Homo sapiens: one gene and its partners. The protein of the gene in region 1 interacts with the protein of each later gene in a pairwise test. Each region holds a gene or a part of one and is shown on either strand. Other genes may lie near its edges.

Evidence for each region. Proteins that work in one complex are often made in the same cells at the same time.
Region 2: the proteins of PLP1 (region 1) and ADGRG3 interact in binary tests that used the Homo sapiens proteins (3 or more experiments, as listed by UniProt).
Region 3: the proteins of PLP1 (region 1) and NRG1 interact in binary tests that used the Homo sapiens proteins (3 or more experiments, as listed by UniProt).
Region 4: the proteins of PLP1 (region 1) and SLC18A1 interact in binary tests that used the Homo sapiens proteins (3 or more experiments, as listed by UniProt).

What each region holds. Positions count from the first base shown.
Region 1 is NC_000023.11:103,778,874-103,784,604, forward strand, and holds part of PLP1 (myelin proteolipid protein), read left to right. Parts: intron 1-5,731.
Region 2 is NC_000016.10:57,684,120-57,687,913, reverse strand, and holds part of ADGRG3 (adhesion G protein-coupled receptor G3 isoform 1 precursor), read right to left. Parts: coding exon 3,702-3,794; intron 3,525-3,701; coding exon 3,431-3,524; intron 2,272-3,430; coding exon 1,988-2,271; intron 1-1,987. UniProt on the Homo sapiens protein: Adhesion G-protein coupled receptor (aGPCR) for glucocorticoid hormones such as cortisol, cortisone and 11-deoxycortisol.
Region 3 is NC_000008.11:32,550,125-32,555,132, reverse strand, and holds part of NRG1 (pro-neuregulin-1, membrane-bound isoform isoform HRG-alpha proprotein), read right to left. Parts: intron 1-5,008. UniProt on the Homo sapiens protein: Direct ligand for ERBB3 and ERBB4 tyrosine kinase receptors. Concomitantly recruits ERBB1 and ERBB2 coreceptors, resulting in ligand-stimulated tyrosine phosphorylation and activation of the ERBB receptors.
Region 4 is NC_000008.11:20,148,315-20,153,322, forward strand, and holds part of SLC18A1 (chromaffin granule amine transporter), read right to left. Parts: intron 2,431-5,008; coding exon 2,352-2,430; intron 1,414-2,351; coding exon 1,362-1,413; intron 1-1,361.

The DNA.
Region 1 (5,731 bases):
ATGGAATCCGGGATTGGAAGGAACTTTAGAAGTTGTCTGAGCCAACCTTCAATGCGGGATTCATTTTTACAACAACCAATTAAATGTTCGTACAGCCTCTGCTTAATCACCTCCAGGAACAGGGAACTTACTACTTCAACCATATAGAATCCCTTAGGATTGGAAGCAAGGAGGAACACTGATTCAGTAGTGTCTGCACAAAAGATTTATGGGGAAAATGATAGCTCATTAATTTTTGCCTTGATTTGGAAGGGGAATGTTCCAAGTGAGTCTTTGGGATAATGATGGAACCAGAAAGGAGCAAAAGAGCAGTAGCTGATTATTCTCTGCTCTGAAACACAATGCCATTATTGAACAGCAAAACATTGTCTGCAAGCCTGTTGTCGTCTGAGAACAGTGGCTGTTACCCTGGTAACCAGACTGTGATGCCTCCATCCAAAAGTGGCTGTTTGCCAAGCAGTGTAGTTTTGGCTGGCTTGCAGTAAGTGGGTGTAGCCCAGGCAAAAAGTGTGGCGGCAGAGCGGGGGTCCAGTTTTATAAAATGCCCGAAGACTAACTGAGTCCCATCAAAATGGCAAGAATGCCCCAAGAATACCAGGAGCCAAAAATAAACCAGATCCCAGCCAGCATGTTCACCTAGTCTTCCTGGAGACACTGACTAAAATAATCAAGTGCAGCCTTCTCTACCTCACTTCTCCCTTTGGCCGTGCAGAGCCAGAGGAGTTCTTGGAAAGCCAGGCAGTTTGAAAGGTCTACCCTGCTTTAGGGGGCCTTGGGCTTGGCTCTGAGCTAGGAAAGCCAGAAGTTTACTTAACAGGCTGACAACTGGAACTGCTCTCTCAGAGCGATCTGAGTAATAACAACCTCAACCCTGGGAGGTGGGTGGGAGGGGAAATATAGTCTCCAAACCCATTAAGGTAGAACTCCAGCCAGTAACATCACTTTCCCCCATTGCTTTTGTCTATCGTCCTGAAGCCTTGAAAGCCATCCCCTGGGTACAGGTCTTTGTCTTGAAAGAAAGCAACAGTAGAAATGCCTTCCCTGCCCACAGCACTTCAGGTCTAAAGAAGACCAAGTGAGGACAGTGACATGATCAGGAAGGGTCACAGCAGCCATGGTAGGTGAATGGAGCAGCTTTTCCTTCCTTTCCTGCTTTCAGAGCCTACTCAGTGCCAAACTTACATCAAAAGCTCAGCAAGTACTGATTGATTAATCCCTCTTGCCTACGGCAAAATGGCCCTGAGGGCTATCTCTCAGCTCTGCACTGGCCTCTGAGCTGTCTGCCAGGCAGGGCTCTAGAAAAGAGTCCCAAGGAAGAGAATAAGGTTCCCCAAATCAGCTTCACACTGCAACAAGGAGAGAGGAGGAAATGGTGGGAGACTGACCTGAGGAACAAGGTATGGCTACTATTGTCTCTAGTACCAGTTACTTCCCTTTCATCTTCCCATTCGTGGGCAAGGTGGAGACAATGTGCCAAGGATAAGTTTTAACAATCAAAGTCCTACCTCAGCTTCCCAATGCTTGCACATAAATTGGAATGTGTACATCATTCATTCTGTCTCTCTCTGTGTGTGTGTGTGTGTGTGTGTGTGTGTGCGCGTCTGAAGAGGAGTGGGGAGTATAGGAAACAAGATAGTCCAGATGCTGTTGCCGTGGTAATACTAAATCGTGTCCAAAGAGGAGGCTGAGATTCCTTTTTAGTTAACCTTGTCCACATGATTTGACTATCCAGCAGGCTTGGATTCCCAGGCCCCAGAGACTTCGGGACTGTTTTCCAGCACTTGAATGTGGTATATAAGTGCTGATATCAAAAGGGATATGTAGGAAAGACAAGATTATAGGCAGGGCATTGTCTGACCAGGACGAGGCCCGAAGCAAAAGTCTTTGTTTGTCTCTGGCACCTCTTGATAATTGTTGTTTTACTCCTAGAACCCACCCACTGATCCCCATCCATCCCTAGTACCAGTCACGGCTGCTCTAGCATTTCGGCCTTGTCAACTACTGCAGGCCCTGATCAAGGAGGCCTCTGTTCATGGGGTAAGGTTAAGGGGTGGGTTCTGGGAGGAGGGTAAGACTGTAGTGCAGATTCGAGACCTAGGGAGGTGGGGCCAGTTTCTCACTCAATGAGCCTGCCTGTTGTTTAGCTCTATTGTATAGGGTTCTTCTATCTCTCCCTTTGTCAGCTGGATTCAAGGGACAGGCTGGGAATTGTGCAGGGTACAATTGGTCTCTTTCTACCATTCCTTTCGATGAAAGCCCTTCCTCTCCTTCCTTTGATGAGTTCCCAGATTCACACTGAATTTCCATCATGGAGCTGGTCCTTGAGGCGGGCCCAGGGCATGGGAAAGGAGGGAGGGAGGGTTGGGAGCTCTTGGTGCCTGCTTAAAGAGACAGCATCAGGATCAACACAGTCCCTTGATGAACCTGGATCTGTGTAAGTCACATTGGTTCTGTTGATCTCTGTCAGACCGCTGTGAAGAGCGCTGGTGAGAAGGGCTTAAAGTTGGAGTATCAACTATCACAGATTGATTAGACTTGTTTTGGGAGTTTGTATACAAATGTAGCCAACCATGACATGATCTTTTCCCTTTGCTTACATTTTGCCCACACAACTTCGTTATATCCATTTTAACACTTGCTTATAGGTAGCTTTAGATTTTGATTCACAGACATATGTTTGTTCACCCCAACAGGATTTCAAGTTTTCTAAAGAAAGGGACTGGCCTTTTAATTCCCTTCTGTTTCTCCTAATGTCTATGTCACTGCTAGTGTGCTTAATTCTTGTACTGAATTCACATAAACAGAAATGAAAGAAAAACACTGGAGGGGGTCATTATTTTTCTCTATGACCTTTCATCAAAGTCAGGTGGCTTAATCTGACTGAGTTGCATTGAGAAATGTTATTACTATATGGTTCTTTTATGCCAACTCTCTCATCTCGCAGTCTGTACTTAGACTGGAAATGTGAGAATGTCTCTTGAGAGAGCCAAGGAACTTCTCCCCTAGAATCTCTTCCAGCCTTCTTGAATCAAACTCACACCCTTTCAACCAGGAGGGGTTCTGAAATGGAGAGCTTTTGGCTTTAGGCTATTGTTCACACATACCCAAGGGACATTTCTTGGACTGTGAAAAATCAAAGGGAGCCCAATGGATCTTTTCTCAGAATGCTTTGATTGTCAACTACTTTGATGAAAAAATAATTTCTTGCAGGCTCTGAGTTTTTCTCAGTTAGAATCTAAAATCTGATTCTTGCTTGGACAGACTGACTGAGATTCTTCACTTCTGCTGAACTTAAATGCCCCCAAAGCAAACATTTCATCTAGGTTGTGAAGAGATGAACATCTGATGCTTATGCTGATATTACTGAATTGTTTATAGCTTAATAGTGATAGATTTATCTAAAGTCATTTATTTCAGACTTTACATTAGAAACTCATTAAAGCCTACTTCTTTCTTGTCCCTTGCTTTGAGCTGTAGTGGAGCAGAAAAGGGGATGCTAAGTTATTCAAGTTCTAAGAAAATAGAGGAAAAATGGATGTAAAAAGAAAGGCTATGATCTGGTGACTCAGAATTGCTCCTAAGGCTTAGCCATTTATCACCCAGTAAGAACACAATCCATGACACTCTCAGGTTATTTGGATGATGATTGAGGGATCAGATACACTCAAGAGGATGTTTCCCTCTCATCTTTGCAACCCTAGAGGTGGCATCACCTAACGCTTAAAGTGGAGTTCTCTTTTGGCTAGCAAGAGTTCAAGTTCCTCCATCCCTGACCATACCTGCACAAGCACTTAGCCCTTCCCAGATGAAAATGCTGGGATGAGTGAGTAGGCCCAAGATGGTCACTTGCTAGGGTGGATGGCTCTTCTTACCCTCGGCTAAACAAACAGTCCTGCCATTGTTCCCTGAGTCTGACCCCCTCCCCACCCCCCGGCTGCAGGCCCCTGTGGAATACCAATCAGGCTCCTGAGATCTCAGGAAAGAACAAGGCTTCTTTGTCCGGGGGAGCTATGGAGGGCTCTGTCCAAGCCCTGACCCTGTGCTGGGGAGAAAGGGAACAGTGGGGTCACTGACCTTCTTCTCCCCCCATCCCCAGGCTTCAGAGACTTTCTTTACTAGAAAAGTCTAAGAGTTTGGGGGTGGGGAGGAGTTGGATAGGCAGAGAAGGAAAATGGCAGTACTGTTTACTTCTAAGCTCCTTTTCTTGACTTATAGGCTGAATCTAGTATCTTAACCTGTTGAGAAAGAGGAAGATCAATTTCTGGAATGTTTTCTGAGAACAACAATCGATTTCAGTTGTTGTGTTTTTCTCTGTGGTATACATGTGTGTATGTGCACATTTGTACACATGCATGCATGTGCGTGTGCACACACACAGACACACCCATGGGCCAGCTCTGAAAAGACACTCTTCCCAAGCACGTTTGCAAAGTTCATGCTGAGTAAACTCAGCCTCCACTCACAGCAGCACAGCTACAGATTGCTTCTTATAGAGGCCAAGTTTCCTGGCAGCAATGCTTTAGTTCTTGGAAAAGGAAGTTCTGCTCCAAATGTTAGCTGCTTACTTTGTTTGGCTTGGGCTTCTGAGGCTCATCTTTGGTGTGACACTCTTTGAAGGCCAAGAAAGGGCTGTCATTTCAGGGGATGGTGGGTAATAGGACTCACTCCTTTTGTGTCTCTGAGAACAGAGGCAAATGCCTCTACCTCGATTTTCCCATGACAGAGATAATTTGATCTTTCCAAATCTGTTCACACTGATGCAATTCAGCCATGTAAATCACTAGGTATTCATGCTCTCTGGGCTAAAAACAAACTGTAACTAATGTTAACAGAATCAGGAAAAGGAGTCCCCTTTCCCTGGTACCCTATAGAAAAGTGAGTGTGGCTTGGAGAAATGCTTGAATACAAAAATCCAAGCCTAAGTAATTAATACAATTTATTTTTATTGTACAAGCTGTCACAACCTGCTTATTCAAAAATAGCAGCTTCCCAGTACATTTGCTGAGTATTTGTGTGTGTGCATGTGTATACTGTGTTTATAGATATATAAAATCAGTGGGTATATATACATATATTTATATATATACATACATATGAATTAAGACATTTTTTCTGAAGAGCTTAACATTCTCATTTCTTCTACATTTTAGGGATCTGGCCGAGAGGCCAGAGGAAGCCATTCTTTTCCTCATCTAGTCAGTCATCTACTTGGCATTTGCTAAGGTTCACTCCATATGACATCTTAGAGCATGGGACTAGTACTTGGAACACAGCTGCTTTCAGAGCCTGTGACTTCTTGTGTGCCTCTCCTGTTTCTCAGCAACACTGGCATAGGGCCTGGGATACCAGGTCTGGGGATCTCAGGGACTCTTAGCACTTTAAGACACATGTGTTCCCAGGCCCTGGTGTGTTCCTCTAGTGCCAGAAAGATGTTTCATGCTTTGCTGACTTTGTATAAAGTCTGTTTGTAGCTGTTTTGACAGAATCTCAGCGTATAACTGAGGGTGGGGACATTAGCCAAGCTGCATTATAGGAGGACAAAACTGCCATACAAAGTGTCCAAAATCATTAAGCCTGCATTTTTATTATTGGGAGTAATATCAAACCTCCTATTTTCCAATTTTCATTTCTTGTCCTGTGCTAGCTCCATCCTGTTTGGACTGCTCCTCCCATATGTAAACTAAGAAGAATCAAGCATTCTTTGCAACAAATACACACGATGCTCAAAAAT
Region 2 (3,794 bases), on another chromosome or scaffold:
CAAATATTGAGAAGAGTTCAATGGGCAATTCAAGTATACCAAGGGCTCTGTTGTATTGGAGAGGAAGAGAGAAATACAGAATAACTCAGACCCAGTGGAAACTTAGTAGAGTGAAGTGTGCAGGCTTACATATTAAGGTAACCTCTGAAAGAATAACGATGTCAGCTATAGTTTCAAAGTTCATTTCTCCCCAACCATCAACCCCTGGGATTCTCCAGGCATGGACTCATGATTCTCCACCTGGAGACAGCCTCAGATGGCCTTACAGTCATAATTTCTATGATTATTAATATAGTTCCCACATATTGAAGACCTAGTAGTTCCCACATATGCATTGTCATTGTTCATTGTGAAATCTGGCAGGCCAGGCACAGTGGCTCACGCCTGTAATCCCAGCACTTTCGGAGGCTGAGGCAGGTAGATCATCTGAGGTCAGGAGTTTGAGACCAGCCTGACCAGTATGGTGAAACCCCATTTCTACTAAAAATTCAAAAATTAGCTGGGCATGGTGGCATGTGCCTGTAGTTCCAGCTACTCAGGAGGCTGAAACCAGAAGAATTACTTGAACCCAGGAGGTGGAGGTCGCAGTGAGCTGAGATCGTGCCACTGCACTCCAGCCTGGGTGACAGAGCAAGACTCCATCTCAATTAAAAAAAAAAAAAAGCTGGTGAGATAAGTACGGGATTATCCCAATTTCGCGATGAATGAGGACGGAAGGAGCTGAGTGACTTGCTGGGTCAGGGATGGGGCTAGGATTTGGACCCAGGGCTGCCTGGCCCTAGCCACTAAGCCACACATCTCTCATGGGGCGCTGGGAGCCAGTCCTGGTCTTGGGGGCTTATACCCGCTGCATCTAGGACGCCTGGGTTTCTAGTGACTTCCCTGAACAGGTTGAGTCTCGTCACTCCTGTCTTGGCTGTTTCTCTCACAGTCAGACTGTGATGCCTCTCTGGGCTGTGGATGTAAGGAGCAAAGAGAACACATATAAACCATAGCACATGGACTGCTCTTACCCCTTTGCTGGGATCTCAGAGGAAGGGCCCTGCGGGGGCCAGTAACAAATACAGCAAGCATTTCCTTCCTACCTCCATAGATCCCTGGAGATCCCATCCATGTCATGTGGACATCATATCACATGATTCTGCCCTTCTGGTCGCAGCTGATTGGACCAGAGATGGACGATGGACACCCAACTTGCAAGGTCAGGTAGGGTTACGGCAGCCATGTTGGGTAACAATTTGGGGCCATGGGTAGTAAAGGGTAAGTGGAGAGAGAATGAAGGAGTTTCCACAGACACTAGGTGAGAGACTCCATAGCTCCAGGAAAAAGATAGAGAACGTATCTGCTTTGGTTTGGGTGGCTTTTTCTGATTCTGGTAGCAGCTCCCATGAAGGCAGCTGATATGTCTGGGATGTTTGTTGCTTCCAAATCTCATGTCCAAATGTGATTCCCAATGTTGGAGGTGGGGCCTGAGGGGAGGAGATTGGATCCTTGGAGCGGATCCTCATGCATGGCTTAGCACTATCCCCTTGGTGATGAGTGAGTGCTCACTTGGAGTTCATGCGAGATCTCGCTGTTTAAAACGGCATGGTGCCTCCCCACTCCCTTGCTCCCACTCTCGCCATGTGATACGCTGGCTCCCCTTTATCTTCCACCATGATTGGAAGCTTCCTGAGGCCTCACCAGGAGCAGATACTGGTGTTGTGCTTTGTCTAAAGCCTGCAGAACCATGAGCCAATTAACCCCATTTTCTTTATAAATTACCCAGTCTCGAGTATTCCTTTGTATTCTAGTAACACAAACGGACTAATACAGCAGCCAAACTTTGCTGCCCTGGATCCTTGCTCTGAGTATTTGAAATCAACATCCTTGACTTCAGCTAGCCTGAACAGAGTCCTGTGTCTTGCAAACCACCCTCTTCCCCACCTCCCAATACCTCCTGGGACAGACAACACAGCCCATCACCTCCCTGGTGCAGGGGCCTCACCTTGCAAGGAGTTGAAAAGTGCAAAGATGTAGACGGTGGAGAGGCCCAACGGGGTGAAGATGGCCAACCCCCATGTCACACCCACCAGGCTCGAGAGGCCCAGCAGGGTGAGCACCTTCTTCCGGTTCTTCCCCCGCTCCTTGACCGCTGTAGCACGGGACAGGGTGAAGATCTTCCAGACCACCAGGGCCAGGACCACCATGCCAAAGAGGAAGGTGATGAGGAAGTAGCCGTGGACGGTGATATAGAGGGCGTACATGGTTGTCCCTTCACGGAACCAGCATCTGGAGGAGGGGGCAGCTGTGGTGGGACTGGGAGTGGTACCTCTGGCCAGCAAACCCAGGAAGTCCCCTGGCTGAGCTTTTCTGTCTGTGAAGGTGCCTCTCCCATTTCCACCCATCAATCCCTGGCTCTCCCGCTGTGGGAGGGGCCGTCACCTGGCTCCAGTCTGGTGTCTCTTTAATGCCAAAGTGACCTCAAAGACATGTTTCATTTGCCCCATATTACATTGTGAAAAAAACGGAATTAGTGGCCGCCTTTAAAATCAGAAGCTTTGGTATAAACACCTAGATTTCTGCTTCTCCTATAAAATCATACACCTGGCAGCTCTGTGGATGCCCTCCTGAAGGATAGTAACTGACCGCTAATTAGATGGGCTTGTGACTGCCAGTCCGCTGCAGTCCCCACCTGGCCCACTGCCTGCACCTTTGTGACCCCTCCAGCTCCTGGGGCCCCTGCTTTTGAGGCCTGGGGACAGGTCCAAGGCCTCACCAGCTCCTCTTAGCACAGAGCCATGGGCCCAGTGGTGGGTGCCCCATGGATCCCAAGGTGTGAGTCTAGAAACTGAACTCAGCTCCACTGCCCTCTGCACTGCAGGGGCAAAGGGCCTCAAAGAGCATGTTGATCAGTTCCCCCATGGTGCAGATGAGGAGACTGAGGCCCTGGGAGAGATCGGGCCTGCCAAGATCACACACATAGCAGGCAGGGCAGAGCCCAGACTAGACCCAGGGCTACTGTGAATCACTGGGCAGGTGGTGGCCTGAACAAGGACACCTGGCTGGGCAGCAGGTGGGGGCTGAAATCCAACACACCCTCCACTCTCCAGGCTGCGCACCCCGCATGCGGACGGGGTGACCTTCTTTACTTTGCCTCAAGGTGCCATGTGGGCTCGTGTTGGCCCAGGCTCAAGTAAGGCATCCTGCCTCCTGGTCCAGTTCTCCCTCTCCTTTCTCAGGCCCCCTCTCTCATTTCACTTCCCCTCTCTCTCTCTAGGCTTCAGTTTACTTCTCTGTGCCATGAGCTAGCTGGATCTGAGGATTCTTCTGGTCTTGACATATTTGGTCTAGATTTTCCTAGAAATCCCTCCTCTCCCCACCTCTCTCCAGCCCCAATATGTGTAGCCGGGGAGCTGGCATCACCCCTGCTCCCACAGCCGCCACTCACAGCTCCAGAGAGGTGCGGTTCTCCCTATCACGGATGGTGTAGAGGCCGTAGCTGTTGGCACTCCCAGTGCCGATGACCATCAGGGCGGGCAGGCCTGGGCACAAGGGGAAATGGCATGACACCACTGGGGCTTACTGGCACTTCCTCCTCCACGTCCCCTCCAGATGGCCATCCCTCCAGCTCTGGGAACCCCTCCTCTCTCTCCCCAAGGCTATTTCCCTCTGCACCCTCAGGGCCGGCCGTTTATTCTGTCCATCCAGGCAGCACCTACCCCAGCCCACCAGGCTCAGCTTCAGGAAGTAGTGCCCGAAGTAGGTGTTGAAGACCCTGACAGCGAGCAGGTAGAGGTGGAAGGCTTCAAGGC
Region 3 (5,008 bases), on another chromosome or scaffold:
AGATGTCCCCTTGCAAGCTAACCACTGCATCAACATCATCAGAATAATGTTTTAAAATATTCTAATTTAGAATACTTAATGAATTAGGGCTATGTGGTCCAGCTGGAAAACAAACTCCAGTTGAGGCAGCTAACATGTATGGAATCGGGACTCTGTTCTTCCAGTAGATTGCCCAGAATACTGCAGTAACTTAAAAAAAAAAAGAGAGAGAGAGAGAAGAAAAAAGCAGTCTTTGGGGAATAGCAGTGTGATGCTCCTGGAGCACCCTCTGGAGGCCAGAAAAAGGTGACATGGGGCATAGGAAGAATGAAGAGAATTCTGATCATCTCTGCTCTTATGTAGAGGCAGAACTCCACAGATCTCACTTGACTTGGACTGAAAAATGCACTTTATCAGTCATAATCAGGGCAACATAAGAAAGTGCATATCTAATTTCTAGTTTAAAAATGCAAAAGAAATCTAATGTGTTAACGACATTCTCAAATAATTTTGTTTCCTAATTTTAAAAAATTAACATATTTTCTGCCTACATTCTGAATTCTTTTGGGAATTTACTGCAGAGGCTTTTTTAAAAAAATTTAGAAGAAAGATGAGAACATGGAATATTTTCCTTAATAAAATGTACTTTTGTAAACAGGGTTATATACAGTGAATTATTAGTCAATTGTTGAAAAGTAGCCAGCTTTATGTTTAGTAAAACCAAAAATAAATAAAGCTGTCCATTTCTTCTTTTTTTCTAACACCTCACTTTTTCTAAAGCGACAAACACTGACATCTATTGGTATTTTGGTAGCTCGCTTTTTTTTTTAACCCATTAAAACATACACAAGGACACACACAAGTGCAGACATGCACAAAATTAGGAGAAATCCAAAATATCATTAGTTCCTTCAAGAAAACTTCATTGTATGTACCTTAGTGGCATATTTTTTATCTGGGTAAAAGAAATCCGTTTTCAAGCTAATACTATCTGATTTATTTTTTTGTTTTTTCTATTTGTCAAGAGGGGGAGCTCCAGGGTTAACTAAACTACCAGAAGTTCATTCATTTGCGTCTTTGAGCAAATAAAGTGACTCACCCAAAATACTGGCATTTGGTTTGTTTTCATCTATCCTAACAGAACATGATAAACTATCAGTACTGTTCAAATCCAATTTAACTTGTTACTTGGAGAATGCTAACAGAACATTGATTTGGTAAGAATCTATCACACTTCCAGAACTTTAAACACTACCTATAGCCATTCTAGGAAGGCTGAGGAGGAAATAAAAAACTAGAAATGTGAATTTAATATATTCCTTATTTTGTTTATATTTAGAAACACCTGCACTCAATTCTATGAACATTGCTGGCAATATACTGTTATGCTTGATAAAAAGATAGTGAGGGGCAGGTTGGTGCACACTTTTGTTTTTCAATTGCTGCAATTTATACGAGTCCCAAAAGAGAAGATTATGTATTCTATACAATAAAGTGAGGTTTAAGCATCAACTCTTAAGTGTTGCCAGAAAAAAGAGTCATGTTTCAAAATCTTCTCATAGCTTGAAACCTCAACATTTTTCTGCCAGAGATAAAATTATGTTGCACCTCACTCTACTTTCAATATTTAGATTGAGTTCAGTACTGTTTTCATAATGTATATATGCAGTTATGGAATTTGACACTCTTATCCACTTTTCTCTAGTTTTACAGGTAGTACATATTAATATTTATAACCACTGTAATCTGAGGTCAGCTTTGGATATTTTTTACCATAAAAGGTAAATTTTGGAAATTATATCAAATATCTTTGCAAAGACACAGATAATTCATTTCTTAAGTAGTTTTATAAAGACAGCTAATATTACTGGGCACTTATTACATGTTGGTTGATGTTCAGAGTGCTTTTCATGGATTATTTCCTTTAAGCTTCATGAAACCCTCATGATAATAATAATAGTATTATTATCCCCATATTGCAGAAAAAGGAAATTTAGGCACAGAAAGATTAAGTAACTTTCCCATGACTACATATTTAAGGAACAGCCTAATTAGGATTTAAACCCAGGCAATCTGGCTGAAGAGCTAAGGACTAGGCCATCTGGCATCTTGCTGCCTAATAGCAAGGAATTTTCTTATTTTCGAAAGGACGGATGACAAAATACACAATATACATCTGTTTTACTGCCTGGAACATGGTAAGAATTCAATAAATAGCAGGTCCCTCATTAATAAACATAAAAGTGTCCAGCACAGTGCCTGGCATGTAGTAGGTATTCAGTGTTCATGTTTGTCTAATATTTTTTGGTTCTCTATATATATTTTTTCTCCTCTTTTTCATTAGTGTTATCTGACCATTTCATGGGTATGAGAAGTATTCATGTCTGAATATACAACTTTCTTCCGCTCTTCCTGCTATTTTAATTCTGCAAAATAAGTCCTATTTCATTCTGTGAATAATCTTTAATGTTTTTAATAATTACATAGGCTAGGTGGTTACAAGTAACCAGGTTGAAACAGATCACTGGACATTCCTCTTGTTCTGTAAACACAGGCTGCCCCGTTAGGGTCAGGGTACTTTATACGCAAGAATGTTTACAAGCACTTCAGCCTGCAGAGCCACTTAGTGAGGGAAACAGGTGGGTGATGTCATTGGGGAAACACACAGCCTGCTTCTACCTATTTGGGATACTAGGTTTCTCAATGTTTCCATCACCCAGACTCACAAATGCCCCTCCTACCAGGAGTGAAGGGAGACAGGATAGTTCTAGAATCTGGCTAGGCATGATAGTGAATTTTTCCCAGGTTATTTAAGAGGAAAAAGAAAAAAGACAGAATTCCGTGCAGAGGTGCAGAGTAAGAACAACATATCGACAGAGAATCACAAAGGAAGCTTAGAGTCAAATACCAATTGGCCAAAAATTAAAAAAAAAAAAAAAAAAAGCGGCCAAGCGCCGTGGCTCATGCCCGTAATCCCAGCACTTTGGGAGGCCGAGGCATGTGGATTGCGAGGTCAAGAGATCGACACCATCCTGGCCAACATGGTGAAACCCTGTCTCTACTAAAAATACAAAAATTAGCTGGGCATGGTGGCGCACACCTGTAGTCCCAGCTACTCAAAAGTCTGAGGCAGGGGAATCACTTGAACCCAGGAGGCAGAGGTTGCAGTGAGCCGAGATTGCACCCACTGCACTCCAGCCTGGCGACAGAGCGAGACTCCGTCAAAAAAAAAAAAAAAAAAAAGCTCTGGTTTTGTAATTCAGGCTTCAAGAGAAAAAGTCTGTTGAGCTGAATCAGTATGAAGAGGCTGGATATGGGAGGTCCAGCACCAAGGAGACCCAGGCTGTTACAGGGCTCTTGGTACGTGGATCAGTGATACAGCACCCAAGACTATTCTTAGCTTGCTTATTTTGAGCAAAGAAAAGGAATCAATGACTCCAAGGGCTTGGGACCTATTAGAGCTATTATTATGGAATAGATAATTGTGTTGAACATCTGCAGCCCCAATAGTGTGCAATTCAACATTTAGTTAATTGTATAAAAGTGCAGATGCTCTGAAATAGCCATGTATGTATCGCATATCAGTCACTCATGCCATATGAAAGTTAAAGAAGCCTTTTCCCCCTGAAAATTTCCCTCCAACAGATGTGTTTATGCCTATGCGTACAATATAGCACACAGCGGGGCTGAGTGGCTGAGATCCCACCCCATTATCTCTCCCCTGACTGTCATGAGGCAATGTTAAAACAGCTGAAGAGAGGCTTGGCTATTGCATACATATCATCAAGGACAGACAGTTGCAGTGGCTGTTTTAAGAAAGGAGTGAAACTTGGAACTGACAGGCACTAAGATGGGAGCAATACAAGAGAAACTTGTCCTCCTAAGTCCTAATTTGGGCTGGCACGGCAAGTGTGAATACTAGAGTTATGGCATCTATAGGTCGTTCCTTTGGGAATGCCTGAAACCTAGAGTGTGGGTTTTTCTCACAAACCATTATAGTCATCAGGTATGAATTCTCCTAAGACAAGGAAAACTACACTGGCACTTACCATTATAAGGAAAATGACAAAGAAGGAAAGAAACACTGATTCTGAAGCATTGTATTTAATGCCATGTGCTTCTATATAAAGCTGGTTTCAAGTTGTTGACCATTCTTTCTGAATCAAATAAAGAATACATATTCTTATCTGGTTTAAAAAGCACAAGATGCTTCGAAGGGGGTAAAAAGTCCCTCCCCAAAAAAGATTATAATCTGGTGGAAAACAGAGACAAATATACTAAAAACTAACCTACAGCCAAATTCACCCCAATTTTTCAGGGAAGACAGTTAAGCAAATGTCACTTAAAGATACTGACTTAGCTGGTTTACAGGGAATCACTGCTGTACCACTGGAAAGCAGATGAGAGCCACCAAGGAAGCTCTGGTGCTCTGTGTCAAGAGAGCGTAGCTAATCACAAGACAGCTGCCTACCTAGTAGATGAGATCTGGAGGGCACAGAAATGCCTGCCCCTCCCCCACTGAACTTGTCAAGTTGCTGTGTTACGGTACTGCTGCTGGGAGCCCTTGACAAAATGCACACCTATTACCTGAACAGGATGCTACTTCAGACCGCTGGCCCCTTCTTAATTCATTAGACCATCTACAGAGGACCACAGAAACTTCTTCTGAAGCCAATGAGCAGGGAGACAGGAGAACACAACCACAAACAGTGATAAGAGCCCCCAAAATAACTCTTTACAACGATTTGAGCTAGGTCTGAAATCTCCGTAATGTACTATGATGACCTTAGAAAGGACAGTAGACAAAGTCACGCAGGGAGGTAACTAATCCAGCTCCCCAATTTCCTATCTTGTTGAATAAAGTGCTATGGTCTCTCCCCAAAATATAGGGTAAAAATAAGGGAAAATTCAATACACCCTCATGAGGGGCAATGATCAGTAATTGAAGTGAATATGATCAGCAGGATCTTATTAAAGAAGCAAGCACAAGAATGGCCAGTGGTGAAACAATTACTCTCTGTTCAATTTC
Region 4 (5,008 bases), on another chromosome or scaffold:
CAAGATCAAGTTTGGACCTCAGACTTGGCTCCATTATGCTCTAACGAGGGTCTTCCTCTGTTCCATGGATACTTTCTCCCCTTCCTCTACCCCTCTTCACCTAAACATACACTCCTGGTCTCATTCTTCATGGAATAAAGTTGCCTCTGTTTTCCATTATGGACATCACTGAAAGGTTTCATTTAGACTTCTAACTTGGTAGCTGTTGGAAAAAGAAGATAGAGAAGAGGCCCCAACAACCAGTTAGCTGTAAGCTAGAGGGGGCAGGTGGTGTGGCTTGGGTCCCCTGTCAGGAAGCTTGTGAGACTCATTCCCATTGCCCTCCCAATCCCCCAACAAAAACCCCTTCTTCCCTCTTTTTCAGGTTCCTTACCTCCCTCTCTGGGTACCTGCCATTCAAACCTGCTACCCCAGGACACTCACCCCTTAAGGGTTTAGCATACCGTTTAGATGCTGCTGGCTGATAACAATTTTTAGGGTTCATGCCTCAAGAAATGTTTATAAATTATCAATAGTATTGGCTGAGATTCACTATGGGCTCACCATGTGCCAGACACTGTGGTTTATTTGGATTACCTTGACAACCCTGTGGACACCATCAGAACCCTCTCTACATAGATGAGGATGCTGAGCACACGGAGATGAAGTAACCTGCTCAAAGTCACATGCATAGAAAGTGGCAAAACCTGCCATGGAACCCGGATCCCATGCTCCTGCTCAGGACCTCCAGCTGGTCTTGAGCACAGTTTACAGTGCCTTGTAGCCCTGTTCTTCTCTCCCTCAGGCCTAGGAGGTTTGTGTGTTTCTCATCCCCACTGGGGAGAGGAGGAAATGAAGGCTTTGAGAACTTGAGGGGGATTCTTGGAAATGGAAAAGTCCTTCTTTCTTTCTTCTTCTATCAAGCCTCTGGTGCCAGAGACTGGGACATAGATGATGGTTCCCTGGGGATTTATGAGGCTCTGTCAGGGTGGGATGAGTAAATGAAGTCATAAAACGCACCATTTTGCCATCCCCAGAAATGGATACCAACATGTATCACTTCATATGCCCACATGTACAGCCTCAGACCTCCGGCTCCAGCTGCCCTACAGCCCTCTTCCTCTCCTTTCCCACTTCCCCTCAAAGGAAAGCCACTGCAGCTGGTGGCCTCTTCCCCCGTGCTAAATTCCTGCCTATTCAGAAACAGTCTTTCTGACAGTCCTTGCCAAGCCATCTCTGCTCATCTTAAAGGAAATTAGTCTTTAAATGTCTGTGTCTTTCTCTCTCTCTCTCTCCCTCTCTCTCTCTCTCTCTCTCTCTCTCTGTCTGTCTGTCTCTCGCTCTCTCTCTCCTTCCCCTCCCCCAGGTCTTCTTATACTTACACAGAGCAAGCTGGTACCTACTACCAGCATCCCGATTAGGGAACACAGCCACCTGGAAGAAAAAAGCCATCATCAAACACCACTAGGGGAGAGCTCCCCTCCACCTGTACCCCATCACCGCCATGCTGACCTGTCCCACCAGCCCTAATCCCAGCAACCCCTTAGGACCTGAGGACAGCATCCCTACATGACCAGTTTGTACCCAAATGAGCTCTCTCCCTGCCCTTTCCTTGTCTCCCCTGGCTCCATCCCTTTTTCTATAGAAAGGCAGAGGAGGTGCCGTGGGACACACTCTTCCTTCCCTTACAGGAGGAATCAGCTGACTCAGGAGGCACTTGTTCCTTAGAAGTAGCCCTCAAACTTAACTCATGCTGTTGCCCAGCTCAGACTGCCTCCTACCTGTCCTATTTTATTTGGTCCTTGAGGTCTGTCTCAAAAAACACAGAAAGTACCAAACTTCTTTCCTTCTCTGATGTCCTATGGCAGTGCTTCTAAAATCTTGATGCTAAACTCCAAAGATAAAATTAAAGCTGTCCTTATTGTAGTGAAGGGACAGAATGGAGACTCATAGCTCTTGGCCCCCAACCCTTCCTCCTCAGTGGCCTCTGGGGTGCCTCTATAGAACTCCTTAGGATTCCACAGAACATAATTTGAAAACTACTTTCCCAAAGTACTGCATTTTTCATAGCTGTTCTCTGTTGTGGTTATTTTATCTCCTCAACTGGACAGCAAATGGATGGAAAGTAAGGGGTGCCCCTCATGTATCCACTGCCTCTTCTATAACAATCAGCTCAGAGCTCAGGACAATCCATTCTCCATACCACCCTCACCACTCACTCACTGCCCATCCTCCCAGTGGGAAGTTTTTATCGGTGTGTACTCATCCTAAACTTTCAACCGTATGGAAGCTGTTCATCATTCCAAGATCAGGAACGGGCGCTCTTCCATCTTACATTTCTACTGTTCGTCCCAGATCCCGAGGCTACATACCGACCCATCTTGTTGGCCAACACACCAAAGAGGTTGGTGCCAATGAGGTAGGACACACTGGCAGGCAAGAAAGCTAGACCTGTGGAAGGACACAGATCCTTACCTTAGGACATGTCCAATTTACTCTAAAATGCCTTGTCTCGTACAAGACACTGAAGTCCACCCCTGTAACCTTCCAAGATCCCCAAACCACTTTGTTTTATGATCTGGGGACCTTTGTGCAAACCCACAGTAGTTGCCATAGGACCCCCACACCTCTCCTTTCTTCAGGAGCAAGGCTTTGTTTAGCCTCAGTACTTTTCTTTTTGTTTTCTTTCTTTTTTTGAGACAGGGCCTCACTCTGTCACCCAGGCTGGAGTGCAGTGGTACAATCTCAGCCCACTGCAGCCTCGACCTCCTGGGATCAAGTGATCCTCCCAGCTCAGCCTCCCAAGTGGCTGGGATTACAGATGAACACCACCACACCTAGTTGTTTTTTTTTGTTTTTTTTTTGTTTGTTTGTTTGTTTGTTTGTTTTGTAGAGATGGAGTCTCGTCATGTTGCCCAGGCTGGTCATGAAATCCTGCCTGCCTTGGCCTCCCAAAGTGCTGGGATTACAGATGTGAGCCCCCACACCTGGCCTAGCCTCAGTACATTTAATGTGCTTCCAGCTCCCCACTTAGATTCCTAATGAATGGCCCTGATGAGCCGTTCTCATGTATAAAATACCCTTGATTATCAGCGTGAGAATGTGAGCTTCAGAGGTGGTGTGGTTGGGTGCCACATACCCATACATAATTCCTGGGAAGTGAATTCCTGCCTTGCTACTTACCAGCCCTTCTATTTCTCTGAGAGGGATCTTGGATTAATTACTAAACCTTTCTGAGCCTTGGTTTCCACATCTGGAAAAAGCAAAGCTATGATTATATCATACCGGGTTACAATGTGGAGCAAATTAGGTAATGCATGCAAAAGTATTTTGTAAATTGAAGTCCTGAACACATGGCTTTTTGTGACAGTAGAGGGAAGTGTTCAGGAAACATGGGCTTTGGAGCCACACAAAGCTCCAAATTTTGCATTCAAACCATGGCTTGATGACTTGTTAGCTCTGTGACTTTGGACAATTTACTTAACCTGTCTGAGTCTCTTCCATTCATTCATTCATTCATTCATTCATTTTAACAAACTTTGACCATGTGTCAGGTATTCTGGGGGCTGGGAATACAGCGGTGAATAAGACAAACAAAATTCTAGCCCTCAGCTAGCTTACACTCCAGGGGAGGGAGACATACAATGAACAAGTAAACAAATACACAAAAAAGATAATTTTGAAAAGTGTTGAGTTATGTGCATGAAATTTAATGTGGTGATATAGCAGAGCAACTCAGAAGGGCTATCTGGGATTTCAGGGTTGGGGAAGGCTTCTTTGGGGAAGTGACATTCAAACTGAGACCTTAATAACCAAAAGAGAGCACTTCAAGCAGAAAATAAAAAGCACCTAATGGAAATTAAGATGTCTTAAAGAAATCATTTAGTTTGCTCTAAGAATAGAAAGGATATCTGTGTGCCTGAAATATAAGAGGAAAGTGGAGGGTGAGAAAATGAAGGTCCTAGAAATGAATCTGGTTATTCCAAGGGCAATGGAAGCTTTGGAAGGAAATGACATAATTGGATTTATATTTTCTAAAATCCCCTAGAAGAATGGGTTCATGGGACAAGAGTGGAAGTCAGACTATTTGCAGAATCCAAGAGAAAAGTGATGGTGCCTCAGATTAGAAGTCATGGTGGAGAGAAGTGAACAAAATGGTAGGTTTTGGAGGTAAGTTGGTGACATTTTCTGTTTGATTGGGTAAAGACATAGCGGGAGTGAGGAGGGGAAGTGAGAAATCAGGGATAACCTAGGTTTTTGTCTTAATCGATTGGGTAGCTGGAGATAGGGAAGACTGGTTGAAGTGCAAGAGCATGGGGGGAACGTGAGAGGTTTGAAGTGACTGGTAGATATTCAAGCAGAGCTGTCAGGCAGTTAGATACTTAAAGCCATGCAAATGGATGGGATTGCCTATGAAAGAACAAATAAAGAATAGAGATCCAAGGACTGAGCCTTGGGGGACTCCTATCTTTAGACATTAGCAAAGAAGGCAGAGATAGCACAGGAGATGAGGAGTAGCCAATGAAGTAGGTGAGGGGAGATGGAATCGAGAAGAGGAGTCTGGCCTTTGATCAGGGCTGGGATGCTCCAACCATAATTAAAGAGAAGACTGGGAATGTGGGTTCAGATGCAGGATATTGGGTACACTTAGTGATGGAAACACGACAGTTCCATTCTCATTGCTTCCATTTTATCATAGCTTCTGTTTTCTCAATGAGTAGGAGGCAAAGTCAACCACTGAGAATGATGATGGTGAAGGGACGGGAGTGCATATGGGGCTAAAATGAAGAAATATAAAATAGTCATTTTGGAAAAGAAGAAGGAGGACATAACTAGGGGCTTAGAGAAAGATTGTTGGACAATGTGAAACCCACTTTAGGTTTGTGGCCATAAATATAAGGTGAGACCAACAGCGTGGTTGTGCGTTTTTTTTGCAGCCCCATGCCATGGCTCAGTTACAGACAAGGAGTAGGCAACAAGATAGCTTAGCTAGAGTGAAGTTTTTGGCAAGTGACAAGCCCAGAGGGAG